2 separate regions of the Homo sapiens genome follow, and region 1 is linked to region 2. A link means that fine-mapping ties the variant in region 2 to the expression of a gene that starts in the linked region. Tissue or cell type: aorta. Region 2 holds a variant in brackets; the other region holds the start of a gene. All regions are shown on one strand. Distances are between the middles of the regions.

What was found. PIP is the estimated chance that this variant, and not a neighbour inherited with it, causes the effect.
Region 1: MIPEP starts here. The variant in region 2 is fine-mapped to the expression of MIPEP in aorta (GTEx, PIP above 0.99). The same link has a PIP of 0.9 or more in cerebellum.

The regions. Positions count from the first base shown.
Region 1 is chr13:23,887,916-23,890,680 of GRCh38, reverse strand. MIPEP (mitochondrial intermediate peptidase) reads left to right here and starts at 1,281. Exons shown (of 19, transcript NM_005932.4): 1 at 1,281-1,549. The coding sequence starts at 1,361. It overlaps PCOTH (prostate and testis expressed opposite C1QTNF9B and MIPEP), which reads right to left and starts at 1,813. Exons shown (of 4, transcript NR_172510.1): 1 at 1,670-1,813; 2 at 639-681. RefSeq lists enhancers at 882-941, 1,001-1,501.
Region 2 is chr13:23,855,019-23,857,783 of GRCh38, reverse strand. The region is part of intron 10 of MIPEP (mitochondrial intermediate peptidase); the gene reads left to right. Among named protein-coding and RNA genes, the nearest start is that of PCOTH, 32 kb to the left of the region's middle. The variant C/T (reference allele first, on the strand shown) is at 1,209.

The DNA.
Region 1 (2,765 bases), 33 kb before region 2:
TCCCTCCCATTTTGCTCATTTTCTAACCTAGGTTTTAATCACCATTCTATCCAACAAATCATTGTTTGATCATTATTTGCCAGACATGAATCTCTACTTGTTTTCTAGGATCGCCCTAATAAAGTACACAAACTGGGAGTCTTTAAACAACAGAAACGGACTTTCTCACAGTTCTGTAGGCTGGAAGTTTGAGATCACCGTAGCAGCAGGGCCATCCTCCCTCCAAAGGGGATACAGGAGGATGCAGCCTTGCTGCTTCCAGCTTCTGGCAGCTGGTGGCAGCATCACTCCAGTCCCCGCCTCCATCTTCAGGTGGCTGTCCTCCTCCTGTATCAGCCAAATTTTCCTCTTCTTACAAGAACAGCTTCCCTAATCTAGTATGACCCATCTTAATCATAATTGCAAACTCCATATTTTCAAATAAGGTCACATGTACAGGCACCGAGGGTTAGGACTTCAGCATCTATTTTGGGAGACACAGTTCAACCCAATCTGCCCTCTGGTTCCCAAAATTGATTTCCTTCTCATGTGCAAAATACATTTTCGCACCATGTCAACATTACCAAAAGTCTTAACACTTTCCGCATCAACTCCTCTCACCATCTACATCATTTAAATAAGCTACAGAGGAGACTTACTGTGTGATTCATCGTGTGGCAAAATGTCTCTCCATCTGTGATCCTGTGAAGCGAGACGAGTTAATCCACTTCTAAAAGACCGGGGGTTGGAGGGGGAGACAGGCATAGGGTAGACAATCCATTCCAAAAGAGAGAAAGGGGAAGGAAAAAAGGGTTCACGGGTCCCAGGCAATTCTGAAACCCTGGAGGGAAAATCCCATTAGACTTCTTTCACTATTTCCCATCTAAAATTTTTAACTGAGCTATGCAAGAGTAAAAAGTTACCGGACAGAGACACCAAACAGAGAAGTGCAGGATAAATTTACCAAGAGAGTAGGTTAAAAGGGAAACTTCTCCTTCAGGCCTATGGTGGGCATTTCTTGTTTACTCAAGTACCTGCCGTCTCTCAAAGAATATCTAATGTCCACTGGAATTCGAATATGTCATGATTTTACTCGCGCCCACCCCTAGTCAACTTGGGAGGGAAGCGCAACCCTAGCCTTTTCTTACTCTGGACACAGGGGGCGGTAAACCGGGAGGGCGGCCGAGAAGGCGAGGGGGAGCGACGCTCTTGCTCTCTGGACGACAACGTGCCCACGTCCTGAGGCCGCGCCCAGACCCGGAAGCGGGGCCGTCACGTGGGGCGGCGTGGGCTGCTGCCTTGGAAACGCGGAGCGCGCGCTCCCAGCGAAAGCAGCAGGGCAGGGATCTGCGTTGGAGGAAGGGACTGCTCTGGTGCTAGAATGCTGTGCGTCGGAAGGCTGGGCGGCTTGGGAGCCAGAGCAGCAGCTCTGCCGCCCCGCCGGGCGGGCCGGGGAAGCCTCGAAGCCGGGATCCGGGCCCGAAGGGTCAGCACCAGCTGGTCTCCCGTGGGCGCCGCCTTCAATGTCAAGCCCCAGGGCAGCCGCTTGGACCTGTTCGGCGAGCGCCGGGTGAGCGGCGCAGGAGGAGCTCCCCTCAGTCCCCGAGCTAAGCCGACCCCTGCTCCGCGCGGCCAGCAACAATCAGGGCGAGATTGTTTGGGCCTGGGAGGAGGCGAGCAGCGAACCCACCTTTTACAGTGGCGTCTTGTGTGCGCTCTCGATGAGGGCAAGGTCACCTCTGCTTTGAGGGGCCGGGTTTAGTGGTCTCCTACCCAGAGTGTCGGGTCCGGGAACTGCTTCTGCATGAGCCCCTTGCTCCACGTGAATCTGAATAGTTCGTTCTGGCAGTGGCGGTGAATTCGTCCTGCCAGGACCCGCCCTCTGCATACACTCAGGCGCACCCCTGCTAAAGCCCTTTAGCTCCAGCGCTACAGTCCTGCCTTAAGAGGCCTATCCCTGTGCGTTCACAGGCGGCATCACATGGTCTTTTTGCAAGGACACGGCTGCCTGCAGTCGAGTAATGGTAATTTCATTAATACCTGAAATTCCATCATCTATTAATTAATTTATTTCAAAGCTTTGGGCTTTCTTGTTTTAAAACACAAAACTCTGTTGAGACGAGTCTCACTTCCCATAGTGCCATGGAATTGGTCACTTTGATTTCTTACCCCAGGAAGTCACTAGCCTGCGTTGTCTAGTGAAAGGTGAGAGGAAGGCAAGGTTGGAAAGGACTTACCTGATGCCTGTTCTACTTGGAGTTTGTACATTTTGTCCGTTTTAGGTTAAGGATTACTTTTATTTTTGCCTTTTAAAATTTCGTTATACTGTATTGCCTTATAAAGACAAGTCTAGGGTATTGTTGCACTGAGCTAAAGTGTGTGATTCTTGTTTTATCTCCATTATCAGTTTTGTCTATTTAAAAATTATTTTGTGTGAAATTTGCTACACCACCTTCCTTAAGGGTATGTAGTGTTGGTATTAACATAGTTGGTGTGAAGAGACCTACTTGTAGGCGCTGAGCAGAAAGACGTGAGGGGAAGCCTGATTTTGGGTGGATGAGATATAACTAATTTTAGCTTTTATTTTTCCCTTTTTGTATCATGATATTCGGCACTGATAGCAGATTTTCAAATTTTAGAATTGATTTTTGCCTTGAAAAAAAAAAAGCCTTATTCAGTTTTTTAGCATTATGGTCACTGGTAATCCGATAGTTAGAATTCCCGAGAGCAATATGGGCAGGTTGTACTGGGAAGTGGAAGTAGTCTGTGCTTGAATCAAATTAAAT
Region 2 (2,765 bases):
CTATACCAGCAGGATGAGGTAGCCTAAGATCAATTAGTGTTTTGAAGCACTTACTCACTTAATTTTCATTTATTTTCCTCTCTTTGGTCTCCATCTATCACTGTTGCCAAAACCATTTTTACTTACAAGGCATAATTGTGTCCTAACCTTTAGTTAAGAATATTTGGTCAGTTACTATTTTTTATTTTTATTTTTCATTAAACAACTCTTTTTAGAGACAGGGTCTCACTTTGTCGCCCAGGCCAAAGTACAGTGGCGTAATCATGTCTCACTGTAGCCTCAACCTCCTAGGTTCCAGCAGCCCTCCTGCCTCAGCCTCCCAAGTAGCTGGCACTACAGGTGTGTACCACCATACCCAGCTGATTTTTAAATTTTTTTGTAGAGATATAGGTTCTTGCTGTGTTGCCCAGGTTGGTTAGCTACCATTTTTTTAAAAATGTATCTCAAATTCAGCATCAGTCTTTTTTTTAGTGAAAACACATAAACTGTTATTCAAAGTCTATAATAATTTGGTTATGGTAAACAACGAGGGTTTAGAATATATTTGTTTTACAAAATTGTTTTCTGGTTGCAGAACTTGAAACCCTGCTCCCTATAGTTGCATTAAAAAATAAAATGTCTCTTTTAAAATTCTGTCAAAGAAAGATTTGGCTTGGTTGTTTCACCTGTTAAAGATGTAGCATAAATCAGTAATAAAATTTATTTGTACTTTCCATGTTTATGTAAAGCATTTGATTTTTGACATTGGAGAGTAATGTAAATTAAATATATTTGATATTAAATATTCTAATTTTTAGAATTCTAATTTTAATTCTCAATATTTAGAATATTAAATATTCTAATTTAATAAATATTCTAATTTTTGCTACTCTCATTTTTATCAGGTATTCCTTTCATATCATGTCCCCGATACCTGATTATTTTCATTAATGCCTTGGCCTTAAATATAAGTGATAGTTTTTTCACTAACTATACTCTGTAAATATAGCATGCCCAAATGGTGGTTCCGAGGTAGGAGATCAGCAGGACTTGTTTTCTGGTCACAACCTCCTGACCAGAACAGGATCTGGTCCAAACAGAATGAAGTAAAGAAACCAGCCCAGACCAACAGATGGCAAGGAAAGGGATTTCTGGCTGCCCTCACTACTCATTAGCATAATTCACTCCCACCAGCGCCTTGACAGTTTACTAGTGCCAAGGCCAATGAC[C/T]GGGAAGTTAGCACCCCCTTCCTAGAAAGTTCTGAATAATCTACCCCCAATTTGCATTAACCCACCCCTTAATTTGCATTTAAATAACAGTGGGTATAAATATAGCTGCCAACAGCCCACAAGCCTGGCTCTGGGCGCACTGTAGGATCTGATCACAACCTACTTTTGTTTTACAGAAAGAAACATCTCTACTCACATTTATTTGTTCTGATTTTTCTTCCACCGCTGCTCTTCCTCCACAGTTTATCCCAGCCAAACCCCTTTCTGTCTCAAAGGCAGAACCTCTGTCAGGGGAGCAGTGGGTTCCCATTGCCTCCCTGGTTTGTCTTACACATCTGTGACATCTTGCCAGGTGTCCATGAAGCTGCTGAGTCTGCACTAGCCTTGTGTAGCTCCTGGCTCCGCTGTGCTTAACAGCCTGTGTGCTACACAGTTGACCTGCTAAGATGTTCTGGATGTTAAATGTGTCTTGTCAACCATATTTTAAAGCTCTGCAAGAACAAACATTCTGGACCCTCAGTAAATACATACTAATTCATAGCCCCTATTCAAACTTGTATCTAGACCAGTAACCATGAAAAGCAATCCAGTGATGAGGTTTTTTTAGAAAGAGAATGCCATGTTTTTGCATGACATGTTTGCAGTGCTCACTGGTTGATGGAGTCTTCCACCTGCTTGCTAAGTCCTTGAAATCACCAGGTATGCTGGGAACACAATGTAGTCTGCCAGATATCCATGTGGGGCTTTAGCTTATTTTAAAGTTTTAATACTAATTTATTTATTTGACTATTAACTCAGTAAAAGAACCAGGAAAAGGGATGCAGAAATGCATCAGAAGGGGTTGTAAGAATCGGGTTTTAAAAATCTATTTTAAGTAGCTTAATAGGCTACTGAGTTTTGGTTTGAGGCTTCAGTAATCTTGATTGACAAGAGGAGGCTGCCGCACAGGTAATGGATGAGAAAAGAAAGGAAAAATATCATAGGTTGGGTTTGGGGTTAGAAGAGTGGAACAAAGTGAAGATTTCTAAATCCTTGTTAAATTCATCACCTTTCAAGTAAAGACTTAAATGTGTGGCTTGACACAAAATGAAATATAGAAGGGGCTTTCCTTGATTCGAGCCTTTTTTTCAAGTTAACCTCAGGGAGTCTTTTGCTTTTATGTTAAATACCTCAGATTTATTTCAAGTTTTTAATGTTCATCTAAAGAAAAGAACCTGTTTAGAAGCAGGAGGAGAAATTAACATGTTTTAAAAGTGCCAAAGGTTGATCCTGGAAAATACCGTAGTAGTATAAGTGACTGTCAGCAAGTCTTAAAGAGCAGCTCATTTTTCCTTTTTAAAGCTTTATTGTAAGATTCTTCATGGAAGAGTAACATTACGTCTTTCAGATACAAAAATAAATTATTTTATTTGAAATTAAATTTTATTTTTGATTAGGCAATACATTCACATGGCTCAAAAAATCAACAATGTTAAGAAGTATTAATTGAGAATACTCATCTCTACCTCTGCCCCAGAAGTCACCACTTTTAAGTTGTTTAATGTATCCTTCCAGTGT